Linked DNA regions of Homo sapiens. The protein of the gene in region 2 interacts with the protein of the main gene of each other region in a biochemical or structural test. Each region holds a gene or a part of one and is shown on either strand. Other genes may lie near its edges.

Evidence for each region.
Region 1: the proteins of NSF (region 2) and ESR1 form a complex in vitro, tested with the Homo sapiens proteins (one large-scale study listed by BioGRID).
Region 3: of the proteins of NSF (region 2) and FES, one has a biochemical effect on the other in vitro, tested with the Homo sapiens proteins (one study listed by IntAct).
Region 4: of the proteins of NSF (region 2) and PTPRO, one has a biochemical effect on the other in vitro, tested with the Homo sapiens proteins (one large-scale study listed by IntAct).

Annotation. Positions count from the first base shown.
Region 1 is NC_000006.12:151,814,182-151,818,665, forward strand, and holds part of ESR1 (estrogen receptor), read left to right. Parts: intron 1-4,484.
Region 2 is NC_000017.11:46,588,311-46,594,354, forward strand, and holds the start of NSF (vesicle-fusing ATPase), read left to right. Parts: upstream 1-2,358; 5' UTR 2,359-2,465; coding exon 2,466-2,477; intron 2,478-6,044.
Region 3 is NC_000015.10:90,891,004-90,895,487, reverse strand, and holds part of FES (tyrosine-protein kinase Fes/Fps), read right to left. Parts: coding exon 4,297-4,484; intron 3,935-4,296; coding exon 3,812-3,934; intron 3,431-3,811; coding exon 3,377-3,430; intron 2,782-3,376; coding exon 2,663-2,781; intron 2,389-2,662; coding exon 2,294-2,388; intron 2,198-2,293; coding exon 2,074-2,197; intron 1,835-2,073; coding exon 1,677-1,834; intron 1,553-1,676; coding exon 1,430-1,552; intron 73-1,429; coding exon 1-72. UniProt on the Homo sapiens protein: Tyrosine-protein kinase that acts downstream of cell surface receptors and plays a role in the regulation of the actin cytoskeleton, microtubule assembly, cell attachment and cell spreading.
Region 4 is NC_000012.12:15,325,508-15,329,991, reverse strand, and holds part of PTPRO (receptor-type tyrosine-protein phosphatase O isoform a precursor), read right to left. Parts: intron 1-4,484.

The DNA.
Region 1 (4,484 bases), on a different chromosome or scaffold from region 2:
ATTTCTTTTATGGCCCTGAAAGCAAAAGACAATGTTCTCTTTTAGTTTCCTGCAATTAAATGATGTTAGAAATAGTCATCTTCACATTGGCGTACTTCCTCTTTCTTCTGTAGGTCTTTTAGAATTTTGAGTCCATTCTCATATTTTCTTGTTTCATTTGCTTTATTTTCTAATACATAGAAGTTTAAACTCCCTTTAAAGAGTTTTTGGCCTCTTTTACCCTATTAAGCTTTCTTTTTTCTTTTCTGTTTTAGTTGTTCCATCTGTGTATTCTCAGATATTTTTCTTTCACCTTTTCTGGTTTATTTCTTTATTGACCTGTCTCATCTGTTATTTTAATGAAATTTGGAACAGGGCTAAACAGAGTTCCTACCTCAGCCAGTATAAGAATATACCGTAATAACTCAGAGTGGTATTAACTAGATTAAAAGTTTCAAAAAGTGATGTTTTTCTTGTCTCTGAGGATAGAAACTTCAACAAAATAAAGAAGAAATTTTCAATTAGTAGAATTTCTTTGAAAGTTTGTTCATTCATTCATTTGGCTACCTTATTCCAAATTGAGTCATTCATTGAGGGCTTAGACTATATAAAGTGTGGTTTTGTTTTCCCAGCAGTTCATGCAACAGCATTGCACCTAGCAGCTGGGAAGTCTTATAGCATGAATAGGTGAGATTCTAATACCAGAATCTCCTGCATGTGTAAACTAACAGTGTAGTCTTGACTGTTGTCTCCCAGTAAACTTGGTTTCAGGAGTTTTAGATCCATGTGAACGTGTACAAGGCATTTTTGCTAACTGTAACTTCCCACTTAATCAACAAAAACAAAAACACTCATTTCTGAACATTCAGTGCATTCATGATTAATCTTAATTACACCACAAAGGTATTTTTCAATGGTGATTTTGCGGGAGTGGGGTAACAGTTTCGAAAGCAACATTGTCAGAAACATAGTTGATTTTAAAGGTTCTTTCTGGTGACTTTGACTTCTGCTTTTTTAGAAGACCTTACACAGAGTTGTATTTATTTCTCCTGGAATATTTCAAGCAATTCAGAGTGAAAGGGTATACATTCCAATTTGCGTATGAGATAAAATTTAGTTACATTGAGAAGCTATTTTCTTTAGTTACAGGGAAAAAATTGTAGGGCTTTTGGAAGCCTCTTTGATTTCTAATAGGAGGAATCCCTGAGCACTGGTCCAAACAGAAATCATCTCTTCTTCATTGCTGTATTTCCCTCAAGCTCTTAGCAAAGTGCATGGCACGTGAAAGCCCGGAGAAGCTGTTGGTTGAAAGAATGGATGGTGGTGGGCAGGAAGCATCAGGGACATGGTTTGCTTCAGTCTATTGGCTGGGAGAAAGGCCATTTAGGAAGGGATCCTTAGATGCCACTGGAAGAATGTGGGAAGTTTGTGAATCTCTCTTTCTCAGGAACAAAAGTAGAAAAAGGACTCCACACAGCATTCCAAGTACAGTCGGCCCTCATTATTCATGGATTCTGTATTTGCAAATTCGCTGACTTACTGACGTTTATTTGTAACCTTCGAGTCAACACTCACGGTGCTTTCTCAGTCCTTTGCAGACGTGTGGAATGGCAAAAAAATTTGAGTTATATGACGTATATGTTCCCAGCTGAGGCTGAGCAAGGCTCACTTCTCCTTGCAGCCCTCAGACTATAAACAAGTGTCCCTCTTGCTATCTACTTCGTGTTATGATTTTTGCATTTTCATAATCCCTGTTGATGATTTTGCTGTTTAAAATGGCCCCTAAGCATGGTCCTGAAGTACTGTCTAGGGATTCTAAGACAAGGCTCTGACGTGTCTTAAGAGAAAATACGTGTTTGATAAGCTTTATTCAGGCATGAGTTACAATGCTGTTGGCCATGAGTTCAATGATGGTGAATCAACAGGATATATTAAATACAGTGTTTTTGAACAGAAAAACATATAAAACAAGGTTATGTATTAATGAGTTGGCAAAAATGCTGTGACCAAAGGCTCCCAGGAACCTACCCTATTTTCCCCTCAATGCAATGGTTCAGTATTTGCTAATTCAGTGTTTGAGGTGACTTTATAGAACATGAGTACCATGAATAATGAGAATCGATTCTGTATAATAGAGTGATGAAAGCACAGGTCTGGGAGCCAGCAGCTATATTTCTATTCTGGCGTGACTCCTGTGTAGTTGTCATCACTGGCAAATTGCTTAACTGTGTGCCTCAGTTTCCTAATCTGTAAAAGCTACATCGTTTGGATGATGTGAGGATTAAACAAATTCATAGATGTCTAGGGCTTATAACATTCCTGGCACATAACAAGTCATTATTTTTTATTACTACTTCGGAAGGGAATTGAGTACTATACCCTGAAGAAGGTGAGTATGGGAATTCTCTACGGGTCTGGAATGTCCCTATATTTGTTTATTTTGCCTTCAAGTGACTAACTTTAATACCCTATTGTGATTAGAAGTTAAACTTCTGCAACCAAAAGGAAGCAGGAAGCTAGTATTTCTTGAAGTGCTTATTACATGCCAGGTACTGTGCTACAAAAACAAAACAAAACAACTGTAAAAAAAACTTCAAATTTGGCTGCGTGCAGCTGCTCATGCCTGTCATCCCAGCACTTTGAGGAACTGAAGGGAGGATTGCTTGAGTCCAGGAGTTCCAGACCAGCCTGGGCAACACAGTGAGACCCTGTCTCTACAAAAAAACAAAAACAAAAACAAAGGCACTCCAAATCAGTAAAAATTAATCAATCAATAAAAAGAGTGAGGGGCATTAAGTATTGTGGACTGAAGCAATCCCAGAGAGGGAATTAATTGAAGCTGAGGTAAGCAGCTTATGGAGAAGCTATGATGTACAGAGGGCAAGGAAGGAATTTTTCTGTAATTTGGAAAAATGGGAACTGTGAGAAAGAAGGAGTTGGAAGCTCATACTTAGGGAGCATCTACAAGGACGTCTTTTTCACGTTGGTTGGAATATCCAAATCAAGGATTATTTCAGAATCACCCAGATGATTAAAAAACTACTGAGATCCAGGTTGTATTTCAGCAGTTCTGACAATTGCTCTGGGTCGAAGCTTGAATCAGTAGTTAAGAAAAACAACAAACAAAACAAATTTTGGGGCTTTTCTCACTGATTTACAGTTAAAGCTCATTTACTCTTCCTATGACTTTAGATGGAGGATATTTCCAAGTCTTCAGGATGGAGACATGGAGGGAAGTGAGACTAGTGATGTGCCTCAAGGTTTTGCTGTTGTTCTAACCATGAGGAGCACTATTCAAACCCAGGTCTGCTAGATTTCCAAGTCTTCATTTCCTTGGGCCTCTTGGATTTCAGAAGCAGAGGGTAAAAGGAGTGCTGGGGAGAAAGATCACAGTAGCTTTCAATTCTACTCCTCAGCTTTCCAAAATAAGTTTCAAGACTGGCCGTTGCATTTGATATGGAATAAATACAAAGAAGGTAGATTGAAGGGTATGAAGATGCAGATTTTTGATACCAGATATGAAGATAACATTAGGAAGCAATCTAAAACATGGACACAAACACACACCTGTGCCAGTTAGCCTGTATAATTCGATTTTTGTTAAGTGTTTAGATAACTGAAGGTAATTTAAGCCCTCATATCTTCCCTTCATAGGGTTCTTTTTCCCTCTGGTTCATCAGAGAGTTGCCACCAATTCAGGCTGTTAGTGGTACACATAACCTCTAGCATTGTTGATACAGCTATAAAATCCCAAATATCAGTACAATTGTTGATTGCATAAAATTTCCAGTTGCATGGTTGGAAAGTCCTGTAAGTTTGAATCCTTAAACCAGTCTTAAATGTGGAGGAGGACTCAATTAAAGCTCTCCTCGTGTCCTCCCTCTGACGTATTTGCAAAATCCTTTCCACAAATAGAATACTGTTTTTAATGCTTCCCCAGTCCAATTTTGCGTTGTAGAAGACGAATTTATGGATGAGGGAAGTGGCATTCAGGCACTCCAGCTTGGTATAGAAGCCCATGGTGTCTGGTCCTCAGTCCTCAAGCCCGCTCATTTCCTCATGTGAACTCAGAATAAGCAGCTGAAAGCAAGTCTTCAAAATCTCAGAGATATGTATAAATGCAAGTGTTTGGGTGAGAAGTGAACATGGGTCTCCTCTAGTGCCCACACTACTTGACTAACAGGTTTTGGGCTCCACACAATGAGGGATTATCAACCCCTGTCCCAGGGCTCTCTGGGTCTTGGTTCTTTGTTTTTGATGCTCAGCAATTGTGATCAGTGAAACCAATGTTGCTTTTCTATCAAGAGTCCAACCCTTTTCTAAGAAGGGTTGTGTTTGATATTAGGGAATAGCTAGCAAAGTTATCAAGTAACTTGTAGAAACATTCTTTTGCAAGAGTTCTTATACTGAATGACTGTAGTTGACAGCAGTGCAGTACTGGTCATTTTCTAGGACATCTTAAAAACACTGATGAGAAGTTTCCTCTCAGATGTCTGTCATGTCAT
Region 2 (6,044 bases):
GCCCTGCAGGGCTGTGCAAATGATTCTATTTAATTTTTACTACTTGTGAGAAGGCACAGAGGGCTTTGAGAGGGCACAGAGGGCCTCTTATAATGGGTAGATATGCACATTAGCTGATACACTGGAAACTTTCCAGCAGGCATATCCTTCCAAGATGATAAATATTCTTCCTTGTTGGAGAAATTGAAGACATTTGTACTTGCAATCTAGCTTATCTAGTAAAACAAGACAAACTAACCAGTGATAGGGAGAAACATGTTTGCATTATTTTCCAACCTTGAAAATAATGTCAGATTATTGGACTGAGAACCAATGTCATCTTCTGGATCTGGTAATTATTTGGACAAAATCTCTTTGATTCTAGGTTCAAAGTCAAGGTGTCAAAAAAAAAAAAAAGGATACAACTGTTAAGCTTATTTAATTATACCTCTCACTGTACAAATAAGGAAACTAGGCCAGGCGTGGTGGCTCACTTCTGTAATCCCAGCACTTTGGGAGGACAAGGCCAGTGGATCACCTGAGGTCAAGAGTTCGAGACCAGCCTGGACAACATGGCAAAACCCTGTCTCTACTAAAAATACAAAAATTAGCTGGGTGTGGTGGCAGGCGCCTGTAATACCAGCGACTTGGGAGGCTGAGACAGGAGAATAGCTAGAACCCGGGAGGCGGAGGTTGCAGTGAGCCGAGATCATGCCACTGTGCTCCAGCCTGGGTGACAGAGTAAGACTGCGTCTCAAAAACAAACAAACAAAAACAAATAAGGAAACTGGGCTCAGAGAGATGAAGGTACACAGGTGATGGGTAGATAGGGACAAAGAAAAGAACCTAACCCTTTGGACTCCCCAAGCCATTCTAATATTTGTTTTTGTAAGTTAGTAGCTTCTGCACGTTAGTATGTCAGAACTCAACTAGTTTCCTATCTTTCCTGATAACCTCTCCGACCCACCCATGATTTAGCTAACATCTGATTTGGTCAACCAAGCACCCTGGTCCTCAGGTTCAGTGTGAGACTTAATGAAATAGGCGTGAATTTTTTTTTTTTTTTTTTTTTTTTTAGACGGAGTCTCGCTCTGTTGCCCAGCCTCGCAATCTCAACTCACTTCAACCTCTGCCTCCGGGGTTCAAGCGATTCTCCCACCTCAGCCTCCTGAGTAGCTGAGATCACAGGCGCCCGCCACCACGCCCGGCTAATTTTTGTATTTTTAGTAGAGACGGGGTTTCACTATATTGGCCAGGCCGGTCTGGAACTCCTGACCTTAGGTGATCCACCCAAAGTGCTTGGATTACAGGCATGAGCCACCGCGCCTGGCTGGCATGAATTTTTTCTTCTGTCCCTAGTTCATCTTCAGGTCACTGTCTGATTTTATTAGTTCTCAAATTTAAATCACTATGCATGCTCAGCTCTTCTAGTTATTTCCCTTCTTTCCTCATGTTGGGAAAAAAACCCCGATTTATTCTAATTGTGAGAAATGAAAGCGAACAAATCCTATCATTCCCTATTGTCTTGTGCAAATATGAAGAGAGATATGATAGTGGGGTAAATAAAAGCATCAGGGAATCCATTCGGCAGAATCTTTCTCCTCTCAGCGTGCTTGCAGTTAGATATTCTGAGATTCCAGTGGAGAAATGGTATGGTGGAAACATTGAGGTTCAACAAGGCTCAATTTAGGGCATATTTTATTCAGATTCTACCATATATATTGTCTAAAATGAAACAACACTGGGGAATGAAAAGGTTGGTCGAAGATGCAAGTTGCCTTTATTAAATAAAGACAAATATTTAATAAAAATAATGTATAAAAATAATCACAATTCACTTTCAAATCTGAAAATACTGAGTTTTCCAGGCTACACATAAATAAAACTGCCAACGATGACAATTCCAGCAACTAGGAAAACAAGTACGCCTACAAAGAAAAGTGAGAAAATTCATGGAGAATTTGAACTCAGAACCAACTCCTCGGAGCTGATCTTTTTTGGGGGAAGCCAGGGAACGCGCCGGGCGCTCTCATCAGCAAGACCATGTTTAAAGAGAGTGTGGAAGCACAGACCAAAATGGACATTCGAGGGCGAACAGCAGCTGGCAAAGGGATAAGTGATCCGAAGCATTAAAGCCCTTGAGACAAATTCCGGCGCGAACCGCCAGTGGGGGATGAGACTCGCAGGCGCAGCCCTCCAGGCCCCGGCGGACTGACACGCACGTTGGAAACGGAGTCACCCACCACAGCCCCGCAGCTCCAGCCAAAATGGCGCCGCCGCTCTGCCCACCCCGCGCACCCCAGGCGGCCGCCGAGCCCGCGCGCGCGCCCTGTGGAGCGAGGACGCCGGGGACGCGGCCAGGGACGCGCGCGTCCTCACGGCGGTTGCACGCCTGCGCGAGGGCGGGCGGCGGGGGCGCGCGCGCGGCGGGGGCGGGCTTTGCCGAGCGCAGAGCTGCAGCCGCCGAGCCGGACGTGTCCGCGAAGATGGCGGGCCGGGTGAGTGCCGGTCTGGGAGCCCAGGCTTGAGGCAGGGGCGCCGGGCTCGCGGGCACTCTGGGGTCCAGGCGGCCCCAGAGGAGTGGGAGTGAATCCGAGCAATGGGGCGCGAGGCCAGAGCGGGACTTGAGGGTAGCAGGGGAGCGGTGGCAGGGGATTAGCCCTCCTCAACAACTCCACCCCCCTCGAGGGGAGATGACCCCTCGTTACACGCGTCTGCTGCGCCTCCCGTCATCCTCCCTTCCCATCCCTTGGGGCTTGTTCCCTCGTCCTCCACACAGCCGCAGGGTCGCGGTCGCCGAAGCCCCCTCTGACGGGCTCTGGGGGTCTTTCCGCACCCCCTTGCGAGGGCTTATTAGGGGGCGCCGGAGTAACTGCCGGGAGCACCTCTGCTGCATTCGGGGCAAGGGGTGTAGGAAGGATCTTCAGGAACCCATGTCTGGCTCTTCACAAATTAAAGGTCGTTGGGAAAGAGGAGGGGGTGCCAATGACTTTTAGTGTTAAAGCCCGGCCATCTGGGGGACCTGTCAACTGTCGGGTCAGGCAGGAATTGGCTTTAGCTTGGAGTGAGGATGGATTTGGGGTGTCACGTTTTGTTTTTATGGATGACACTCGCTTCGAATGCAGCAGGATATGCTGTAGTTTCAGGGTTTTAAATTTACTTCCTCCTTTAGCCTTTAGGATCGTTGGGTAGGATGGGTTTGGCGAGGAGAGAGAGCTGGTTGAGTGCTGTATTGCAGTCTGCCTTGAGCTAAAAGCTCTCAAGGGATGAGTCCTGCCCGGAGATTACACTGGTCATAAACCTGAGGACATTAACTGCGTCATTGGGGGTGAAAGATGTGATTGACTGATCTATTTATAACAGAATTTTTGAATAAGTTTGCATAGATTTATGCATATATGCAAATGCCCTATCTGAAGGGACTTGTAGGTCATGAGATTCTAGAGTAAGAAGGGATCTTAAAGGTCATTTAGTTTGGCTTCTTTCTCTTCCTTTTCCCCATGGCCTCTCCTTTTAAGGCTAGTCCTTCTGCCAGTACTTCAGACCCTATCTGTATATTCACCTGCTCCTTCTTAACATAATCAAGCTTCTCTATCTTAAACCCTTCCCCCACCCCCACAGCTGTCACCTTTTCCCGTCCCAGTTTACAGCAGGAAATTTGATAGAGTTGTCTATATTTATTGTCTTCCATTTGCTTACCACCTACTCACCCTTCAACCTACTGCAGTCTGATTTCTGCCCCATCATCCCACTGAAACCTGTCCCTCAACTTAATTGATACCTTTCAATCCTTATCTTATTTGATATCTCAGCAGCGTTTGACGTTGTTGACCATGGCTTCCTTGACGGAAAGCACTCTTCACATGTGTTCTGGAATGCCTCGCTCCTGGTTTGACTCAGACCTCTCTTTTGCGGCCTCACCCTCCTCTACTTTGTTATTCATTGCTGGTATTCCTCAAAGGCCGTCTTCTCACTCTCAATTTCCCGCTCAGGCAATTTCTTCTAAGCCCATAGCTACAACTGTCTATATGCCAGTGATTCTCAATATTTTACCCCCAGTCCAGACCTGCCCTTTAAGTTTCAGGTTAATATGTCCAACTGCTTATTTAAAATCAAGGTCCCGAAACGCAGCTTTTTCAACTCCGAACCCAGGATCTTAGCCCACCTAACTTGTGTAGATACTCCTCGACTTAACGATGGGGCTACCTTCCGATAAACCCATTGTAAGCTGAAAGTATCAGAAGTTGAAAATGCATTTAATACACCCGATCTACCGAATATCATAGCTTAGCCTAGCCTGCCTTCCTTACACATGCACAGAACACTTACATTAGCCTACAGTTGGGCAAAATCATCTAACATAAACCTATATTATAAAATGTTGAATACCTCATGTCATTTATTACTGTGCTGATAGTGAAAAACAGAATGGTTGTGTAGGTCTTCAAAGTACAGTTTCTGCTGAATGCCTATCACCTTTGCACTATTGTAAAGTTGAAAAATGTTAAGTCAAACCATTGTAAGTCAGGGACCATCTGTACCTATCCAGTGAGATAGGAATATCTCACTGAATGATACCATCATCCACCCAGTTATATAGGCTGGGAATCTGAGGGAGGGAGAGGGTGGGTAACCCTTTATGTCTCTCTTTTGCTGTACCCATGTCCTCTGCCCTATCCCCCGGTAAAATTTGTCAGAGTTCTGCTCCTGCCCCCCATAAAGGTATTTAATTAGGGCCAAAGACTCTGGTTTGGGGGAATGGTTGCTTTAGACTAGTTCCAAGTCACCCACTGGACTATCTGGATTGGTCACATGGGTTCTGTCATTTTAACCTAAAAATCTCCAGTCTGTCCACCTTTCCACATCTTCATTTTTACCTCCTTTTCCCAAACTACCATCATTTCTGGTCTGGACTACTGCAGGAAGCTTCCAAGTATTTTTTTGTTCGTTTGTTTGAGATGGAGTTTCGCTCTTGTTACCCAGGCTAGAGTGCAATGGCGTGATCCCTGCTCACTGCAACTTCCGCCTCCTGGGTTCAAGCCATTTTCCTGCCTCAGCCTCCTGAGTAACTGGGATTACAGGCGCCCACCACCACACCCGGCTAATTTTTGTATTTCTAGTAGAGACGGGGTTTTACCATGTTGGCCAGGCTGGTCTCGAACTCCTGACCTCAGGTCATCCACCTGCCTTGGCCTCCCAAAGTGCTGAGATTCGTGCCCGGCCTCCCAAGTAGTCTTCTTAGAGCATGTGGCCCACCTCCAATTCATTCTTGACCTTCATTGTTCCTTCCCGTGCCTATTACTACTTAAACCCCTCCTCAGCAGCATCCCATTACTTTTGGGAGAAAACCAAATCCTTAATGAGGCCTTCAGGACTCTTTGTGGTTCTGCTCCTGCTTCTTTCCACTCATTCTCTTACTCTGTGTGCTCAGGTTATATGGTAAACGAGCCTTTCAATTCCTTGAACCTGTAGTTTCTCTTACCACAAGGTCTTTGCGAGTGGTGTTTCCTTTCTTTGTAACGTTCTTCCCCCCAACCATTTACCTCCTACTCAGACATCACTTAGCTACTCAAGGGAGGCCTACTCTGACCCCACATTATAAGTCAGGATCCTTTGTTATATACTCTTGAAGAACTGTATTCCTCTCCTTAGAGATTTATCTTTTTGTTACTTTGAGTGTGTGTTATTATTTGCTTCTACCACTTCACCTCAGTGAAAAGCAGAGAACATACAAGTTATTTAGTCATTATCAACTGCGCTTTGTGTACCTTGTGGGACTTAGGTACTCAATACATTTTTGTTGAAAATGAATCAGTCTCTGAACACTCTGGTGATAGATGGTATATTACCCTAAAGCTTGCCTGTAATGTCATACAGCTATGTTAGGTCTTTGTTATCTGGAGTTCCATGTAACTTTTATACGTAGTTACTATTTCTGCTGTTTCAAGCCATACGGAACTAAACACAATTCTTTTTCCATGTAATAGCTACTCAAGCTACTCATTTACTTGAATACAGGTTACATATCTCCTCAGATTTTCGATTTTGCAAGTTAAACATCCCCC
Region 3 (4,484 bases), on a different chromosome or scaffold from region 2:
CATAGGCCCAGCACTGCTCCATGAGCCTGAACACGGCATCAGGACACAGCTCTGGGCAGGGCAGACGGCCCCCTGTGAGGAGAGGCACAGCACACCAGGCATGAGGAGGGAGTTTGAGGGTCCTCGGCAGACTCTGGGGGATACCATGAGCCATAGGAGCTGCTTAAGATGCACTGTTCTGAAGGATGCACTGTTCTCCACCAAGGGCCCAAAGGACAAAGAGGCCTGGCTTCTGATCCTAATCCTACCACGTGCTAGCTGTGTCCCCTCTGCCAGCCTGTTTTTCCATCTGAGAAAGGGACATATTAATCCCTACCACACATGTAGTGATGAGCAAATGAAATAACATGTGACCTAGCACAGACCAGGTGCTCACTCAGTAGTAGCTACAGGGATATTCTATTTTTTTTTTTCTTTTTCTGAGATGGAGTCTTGCTCTGTCACCCACGCTGGAATGCAGTGGTGTGATCTCAGCTCACTGCAACCTCCACCTCCCAGGTTCAAGCGATTCTTGTGCCTCAGCCTCCCAAGTAGCTGGGATTACAGGCTTGCACCACTACACCTCGCTAATTTTTTGTATTTTTAGTAGAGACAGGTTTTGCCATGTTGGCCAGGCTAGTGTCAAACTCCTAGACTCAAGTGATCCACCTTCCTCAGCCTCCCAAAATGTTGAAATTACAGGCGTGAGCCACTGCGCCCAGGTTTTTTTCTTTTTCGAGTCAAGGTCTCTCTCTCTCTCTGTCACCCAGGTTGGGGTGCAGTGGCATGATCTCAGCTCACTGCAACCTCCACCTCCCGGGCTCCAGTGATCCTCCCACCTCAGCCTCCCGAGTAGCAGGGACTACAGGCGCATGTCACCACACCCAGCTAATTTTTGTATTTTTTGTTTTTTGGTTTTTTTTGAGATGGAGTTTCACTCTTGTCGCCCAGGCTGGAGTGCAGTGGCACAATCTCGGCTCACTGCAGCCTCCGCCTCCTGGGTTCAAGCAATTCTCCCACCTCAGCCTCCCAAGTAGCTGGGATTACAGGCACGTGCCACCATGCCTGGCTAATTTTTGTATTTTTAGTAGAGATGGGGTTTCACCATGTTGGTCTGGCTGGTCTCAAACTCCTGACCACAGGTGATCCACCTGCCTCGGCCTCCCAAAGTGCTGGGATTACAGGTGTGAGCCACCGTGCCCAGTCTATTTTTGTATTTTTTGTACAGATGGAGTTTCACTGTGTTGTCCAAGCTGATCTTGAACTCCTGGGCTCAAGTGATCCACCCAGCTCAGCCTCCCAAAGTGCTGGGATGACAGGCGTGAGCAACTGGCCAGGTTATTCTTATTCTGCCTGGTGGGAAGGTTGGCATTAAGGGAGTTAGAAGAGTCCGGCTGGAGCATCTGGAAGAGGGTGCAGCCTGAGGCTGCTGTCATCACAGGGTGCTTACCCTTCTCCACAAACTCCCGTGTCTGCTGATTGCTGAGGTTGGGATAGGGGGAGGCCCCCAGGCTGAAGGTCTCCCAGAGCAAGATGCCAAAGCTCCACACGTCGCTTTCGGAGGAGTAGCGGCCTGCAGAGGAGGCGAGGAGGTGAGGCAGCGTGAGTGCACCCTCCCTGGGGCCAGGGCGAGGCAGCCGGCAGGACCCAGGCCTGGCCTCTGGCCATGGAGTCCAGGGTAGACAGGGACTAGGTACCGTAGTTAAGGGCCTCAGGTGCGGTCCACTTCACGGGGACTTGTCTGAGGCCCCCTGAGGCTGCATAGACCCCATCGGCTTCCTCTCGGGACATCCCAAAGTCACTGATCTTCAGGACATTCTTCTCTGTCACCAGGCAGTTCCGAGCAGCCAGGTCCCTGGGTGAGACAGGGCAGGGGCTCATTTGGCCAACAGTCGCCTGCCCAGCCCTGGCTGAACACTCTAGGAAAGCCAAGGACAAAAGCTGCTCCCGGCCCTGGGCACCCCTGTCTACCACAGAGGCCAACTCCCCCTCTGGAGCTGATGCCTGATGGTCCAGCGGGGGGCCCTAGGGGTATAGGTACCTCTTGACTCTGGTCGGGGGTGTTGGCAGGGCCCGTGGCCACCGCCCACTCACCGGTGGATGCAGCACTTGCTCTCCAGGTACTCCATGCCAGCAGCTGCATCCCCCACCATCTGCAGCAGAGTCTTCACCCGCAGGCGGGCCCCCTCCGTGCGGAGGAAGGTCAGGAAGTCGCCCCCTGCAGGTGGGGAGGACCCCTGCTGAGCCTCCTGAGGTAAGGCTGCCACCTGACCAGGCTGCGCGCCCTACCTGGAGCTCAGCGCCCCGCGCTCACCCTGCACAAGCTCCATGACGATGTAGATGGGCTGCTTCTGGGTGCAGACACCAATGAGACGCACGATGTTGGGGTGGCTGTACTGCTTCAGGATCCTGGAGGGCACTGCTGCTCAGGATCTACGTGGCCAGGCCCGCCTCCCCAGGGCCCCCCAGGGATGATGGGAGAAGAGCTTGGCCTCCAAGGCCAGCAGACCCGGACGTGTGACCTGGGGCAGCCTCTACCCTTCGGCACTATAAGGGGGTACTACCCGCAATGGGGGGCCTCGAGGACTAAACACCACCACGGTGGTCAAGCACTTCACACTGTGCCATGCAGTGTAACCTCTGTGTATGCGGGACCCGTGGTGATCATTAGTTTATCACCCACCTCGCTTCCTGTAGAAACTTGGCCTTGAGGTCAGGTGGGAGCGTCTCTCGACAAGACTTCACCGCCACCAGGGTGTTGTCGGCTCGCAGGCGTCCGCTGAACACTTCGCCAAAGTTCCCCTGAAACGGTCTTGGGCTCCTACCACGGCCTTCCCAGTCCCGCAGTTCTCTTCTCCGCTTCCTACCCATTCTGCTTCCTACCCCTGGGTGAGGGGCCCCCGTGTTCGGACCCCTCACCCAGGCTCTCTGGGAGTTTGACCCTCGCTGGGGAACCTAGAGAGCACATGGGGCAGGCAGGGAAAGTTGCCTCCGATGTGCCACCCTTCCTGAGAGAAGTGACATGGAAATCCAAAAATCACTCTCCCTTGGGTTTGAAAAGCATTCTGATTTTTAGGACAGTGACTTCTTCCCTAAACAGGTATCTTATGGCTTACAGTAACAGGGTGTCTCCCTGCGTGCACACAAGAGCTCGATGGGGGCGGCCTGGGTGGGGGTGATGAGGTCAGGGTGCTGGCAGAGCTGTCTGCTGGGAGTTTTCAGGGTAGGTACTGTCCCGTTTCCTGGAGGATGGTGTGTGGTGGGGGCTGGGCAGGGAGTCGGGGTACAAGTGGGGAATCAGATGGGGCAGGGAGGTCTCTGGGTGGTAGGGCAGGGGGCCCAGGCGCGACTCAGGAGAAGTCGCCAGCGACAAGGAGGCCAGCAGAGGCGCACTCACCCGTCCAATCTGCTCACCCAACACCAGGTCCTCATGGTTCAGCACCCACTTGTCCTGGGGAAGAGAGGAGACAGGGGATCAGAAGTCTGAAGAAAAGGGGTGCTGGGCCCTTAGAAGGGCTGTGTCCTCCATTTTTTGGCGCCTCCATATGTGACCAGGGGTGGGACCACGTGGGGAGCACACTGAGATGACTACGGGGTCCAGGCAGGTGCCCTGACCAGGTAAGCACCAACCTGGTGTGTACAGCCCATGGCATAGGAGTGGCCCTGACATTCCAAACCTAGAGCAAGGCTGGCCCTGAGGGTCACTCACTCTGCATCTTGTATGTAGACGGAGGGCCTGGAAAGCCCTTTCTGCTCAGACGCTGGGTGGGCCTGACCCACACTCCCCAAGCCCTGCCACAGGTGGCATGGGCCAGGCTGGGTGCAGGCTCACCTTGGGCACAGCCCTGTGCAGGACAACACCACTCTTCTTGGTGAGGGGCTGCTGGGTGCTCAGTAGGTGGTCGATGAGCAAAGGAATGCTAGGAAAGCCTTCCCCTTCCAGTCGGTACAGGTTCTGCAGGGCAGGGGACCCGGGGTCAGCAGCCTCCATTCTGAGGGGGCGTGAGCCCTGGGAGGGGGAAAGGGAGAGCAGCAGGGGAGAAAGGGCCTGCCCAGGACCAGGGGCAGAGAGACCTCCAGAAAAGATGCCATCTGATGGCACATGACATCCTGCTGCCCCACCAGGGGAGGACTCACACTTAAGCCTCTATTTTGTTGCAGGGACAGGGTGGTCTCTGTGGCCCCTTCCAGCCAGCCCTGCTAGGGAGGCATCCAAGACCTGGCAGCTACCCCCTACCCTGAAAGGCCATTTCCCTTGGGGAAGGGAAGGGAGGGGAAGAGTGAGGCCTGGAAGGCTCGGGTCCCAGCCCCACTCACATCCAAGGACTGGATGATGAAGTGCCGGGGCAGACCATCCCACAGCACCGACAGCACGTACTCCTGCTTGCCCTGGCTCTCCCGCACCAGGAAGTCCCCAGAGTGCACCAGCAGCTCAGCCACCTCTGCCCTCGGGATGGCCCCGTGGTACCACAGCTGCTCATGCAGGGGCTTCTGCACCTCCGGAA
Region 4 (4,484 bases), on a different chromosome or scaffold from region 2:
CTGCATTTTCCTAAACTCTGCCATGCTTTTCACAACACTGGGCCTTTGCTCGTGCAGTTTTCTCTGCCTTTGTGTGTATATATTTAAACCTAACTCGTACCTATGCTTCAGGACTCAGCTCAGGAATCATCTTAAAATAAATAATTTCCCAAACCACTAAATAGTTAAGTGTCTCTCCTCTAGCAGCCCACATTTTCATCCGTAAAACAAAACACCATATTCTAATGACCATCATCTGTGTCCATGTTCCCAATATGCCACTGCCAGGGACTCAACTGAGTATTATCCACTTCTGTACCTATAATATCTAGTAAAATTCCTGGCACATATTAGATGCTTAATGGATGTTTGATTAACTAAATGGAATTGGGCAGTGAGTCTTTATTCTGGAATACAAAAGACAGTATTGAAGAAGAAAGGGAGCTTCTCAATCTTTCCATTTTGGCATTGGGGAAAGATTGGCCAGCCAAAAAATGTTTATAGGATGCTCTTTCAAGGAAACTAAAAGACAAGGAGTGGTTAATTATAATTAATGCCAGGATCCAAAAGCAGGAATACTAGAGTTTATCAAAATACAATATTGATTCAGAAAGTAAGTATAGGGAGGTGGGAATCAGGCTTCAGATAGGACCGAAGATACAAAGGGCACTGAAAATTCTTTTGAATTCTCTGACATCTGGTTTGTACATGCCAATCACAAATTCCTATGCGTGGAACCAAGAGAGAATCACAAGACACATATCAGCACAGCAGGCTCATAATTGGTCTCTGATACGGGTTAAAGGTAGAGAGAACCAGGGTCAGAAATTCCTCTGCACTTAATTTGGTCAATGGCGGGTAATAATGAAGGAACAGTATTGAGAGCATGGTAGAGTCATATGACGCCTTTCCTCACCCGTTATATAAATCACTGATATTAAAAACTTAGTAGGCAGAAAGAGGAAAATAAAACAAAGTCTCAGTTATCTGAAAACAGTAAAATGAAATAGCACAAAAAAGGGAAACATTCATCATTTAAATCTCATATAGATTACTATTAATATAATTCTGATCTTGCACCACTACTTGTAGATAAATTGCATTCCTATTCTTTTAATTTGCTAGTAAATATACCAAAAATCACATTTAAAAATAGGTTTATTTAGTTTAAATTTTCATTAAGATAGAAATAGTTTTGTTAGAAAAATGAACTGTGCAGCATTCCTATTTATAAAGAGTGAAAAACCAAATAGATAAAGAGTATTTGATAAGAAAATACATTTATTTGCATATAAATAGAATTGCAGTGTATTTGTTTTCATCAAATGTTCTTCATTTCATTCTCTAATTTCCCCTATATTCATTTTCTTACAGAAATTACCATTCATACTCATAATTTGCAATACCGCTCTCAAGCTTGAAGTCCTATTTCCATTTCTGATTCTCTGTTTCTGAAATATTTTTCCAAGCATATATCACTTTTCTCCCTTTCATCTCAATTTCCTGAAAAAAAGGAAAGAAAAAAACCTTTTATCAGGAAATCCCCGCAACCTTGTTTCAAACATCTTCTGTTTGTTTGGTGGTTTTAAAATATTCAGAAGAAAAAGGAGCTGGCCTTTAAGTAACTAGAATGTCTAAGGAAAGAAGAAATCTTTCATTCGGGAATTAGATGCTGAAAGACTTGCGAACGCTTTTCTGGCACAAGGCTAAGATATGATCTTACTCATAGAAATAAATTCAAAGGTACAATGTGCAGAGGAAAAAAAATCTAAGGATTGGTGTTCTGAAGACCTAGAACAAGCTTGGAAAAGGGAAACATTAGGAGTAATTGGTGATAGCAGATTACATGAGAGGTATTTAATTAAGGAGGTTATTCACATATACTTTTTTTTTTTTTTTGAGACAAGTTTCACTCTTGTCGCCCAGGCTGGAGTGCAATGGTGTGATCTTTGCTCACTGCAACCTCCGCCTTCTGGGTTCAAGCGATTCTCCTGCCTCAGCCTCCCGAGTAACTGGGATTACAGGTGCCTGCCACCACACCTGGCTGTTTTTTGTATTTTTAGTAGAGACGGGGTTTCACCATGTTTGCCAGGCTGGTATCGAATTCCTGACCTCAGGTGATCCACCTGCTTCAGGCTCCCAAAGTGCTGGGATTACAGGCGTGAGCCACCTCTTATTGGCTGATAGAAACCCTATGGGACCTGCTGGAGTCAACAGCACCAGGAGAGAAGGAACCCATTCACACTCATCCCAATCCATTCACACTCTTGCTCACTTTACTTGAGCCACATTAACCTTGTTTGGGTTCCTCAAATCAATGACACCAGCGCACAAAAAAAACTTACATATTTATTTGAGCAAAAAGAGCTGATATAATGGGTATTTAAGATGACTATAGAAGAGTTCTGTAAGAAATTGGGTTATACGACCTTGGATTAAACACTACCATAGGGATAACCAAGACCAGGGTGTAGAAAATACTTCATCTCTTAAGGGTGATGTCTGACAAAACATTAGGAGGATTTCTACTAGGAACACAGAAATCTTGGTCAGTTCTGGTTGGTTGTGGTCATAGCGGAGTGGTGATGTGGAAGAGGAGGCAAAAATATTACCTGTATATCTGGGTACTAGCTGAAATTGTAGGTCACCCATACAGGTTAAAAAAATCAATTTCCCCTAGTATGTCATTTGCTACTTTTTAATTAATAACATTAAACAGAGGTGAGGTAACATTAATGAATAAATGAGCAACTGAGAATATTACATTTCTGGGAAAAATAACTGATATTTTAATTTATGGTTTTAATAAGATTCTAATATAAGTGATTGGTAAAATTTTTACTATTTGAATGTAATGAGTGCATTGTAGTTATGATTATTTAACTCCCATAATGATAATTTTCCTATATTTTCCTTAAAGATGTGTTCACAAGTCAATATTACAATATTTCATAATTCTCAGTCAGAGCTTTTATATAATGCAGAAAATTTAAATCTGTTTATTAACCTTCTATTAAATTCCTAACACCACATACTAGCACCATGAAAGATAGAAATATTACAGTAGACATTCCTTTATTTCAAAAATATTTACAACATATTTGGAGTAATTAAATGAAAACATTAAGTGCTTTACAGTAAAGCTCATCACTGCACTGGGATATGTTTCTGAAAATGCAACATCACTGAAACTGTGTACGGAGAGGCATTAAATTAGGGGAAAATGAAAACTTGTGGTCATTGTTGTTAAGCCTTCTATTGTGCCACACTGCTACCAATTACAATGTTTTACTTAAGTGCATCAACTGTATCTGACATCAAACATTCTTTTACAACCCCTCAAGTTAGAATTATATTTATAAGGTTCAGGAGTAAATCTGCTTATACGTTTAAATACCTTTAAGTTGGATATTTAGATAGTAGAAATAGTGTTACATTTTAAAATAAAGTACAACTCATATTGTTTTTAATCAGTTATCCACATAAATGTGCATTTTCTTTTGGGCCAAAATGAGGCAGAGGTGTAATGTGAATTTTTCATTCCTTCACACAACGATAGTCTCTCACAAAACAAAGAACAAAAGGAAACATATGTTCACAGTGGGAAGGATTATTACTCGATCATCTGTAGAAGCATGGCCCAGGGAGCCTTTGCCAACCTACTGGGGATGTCACATGTAAAAAGGTTTCTCCAAAAGGTTGGCAATATGATTTATTAAAGGAGTCAGATGACATGGGAGTTAAGGGCAGCAAACTTCATTGTGATGGAAAGGATCTAAGCTGCTCCAGCAAAATGAAAGGATTATGGTTCACCTGCCAACACTGTGCAATTTATGGATGAAACCTCAACCACGAAAAGTGAAACTTCTTTGTGTGTGTGTATGGGGTTGCGAGGGGAGACATAGGAAAGGAAAGGCAGACAGACCGTGGAAAACAGATATTTCCCCTGGATAAGAGTAGAATGGCCAGTATCATAACACTCATGTATTATAGAATTAAATATAAACCTGTTTCAGAAAGTACAATATTAAGACCCTTTTTAAATTTGATATTCTTTGATGATATCTCTGGTAAAAGCAGAAATAGAAAGAAATAGAGAGAAGGGGTTAAAAAAGAAGGACACACGCCAAGCACTTGAGTTTAGGAATATATTCCAGCTGACTACTAAAAAGCAACATTTCAGGGAAGGCCAACTTCAAATTCCTATGATGTCATATTCCACGATTTGCACCTTAGTAGACAAAGTACTTATACTGAGTAAACTGATACAGGAAGACATTTTCTAGGAGGGCTTTAGTAAAGATAGGACAAGTGTAGGAAGTTACATTTCTTTCACTGGGAATTATGGGAAGACACACAACAGCGAGGCTCGCCAGATAAATACCTCACTTGCATTCATCCATAGAAGACTTTGAAATTAGTAGCCTTCAATATAATAACAGAGTTCCATTTTTTCTTCTATTTTATATACACCATCAATATTGATATAAAAATAAAAATTTTCA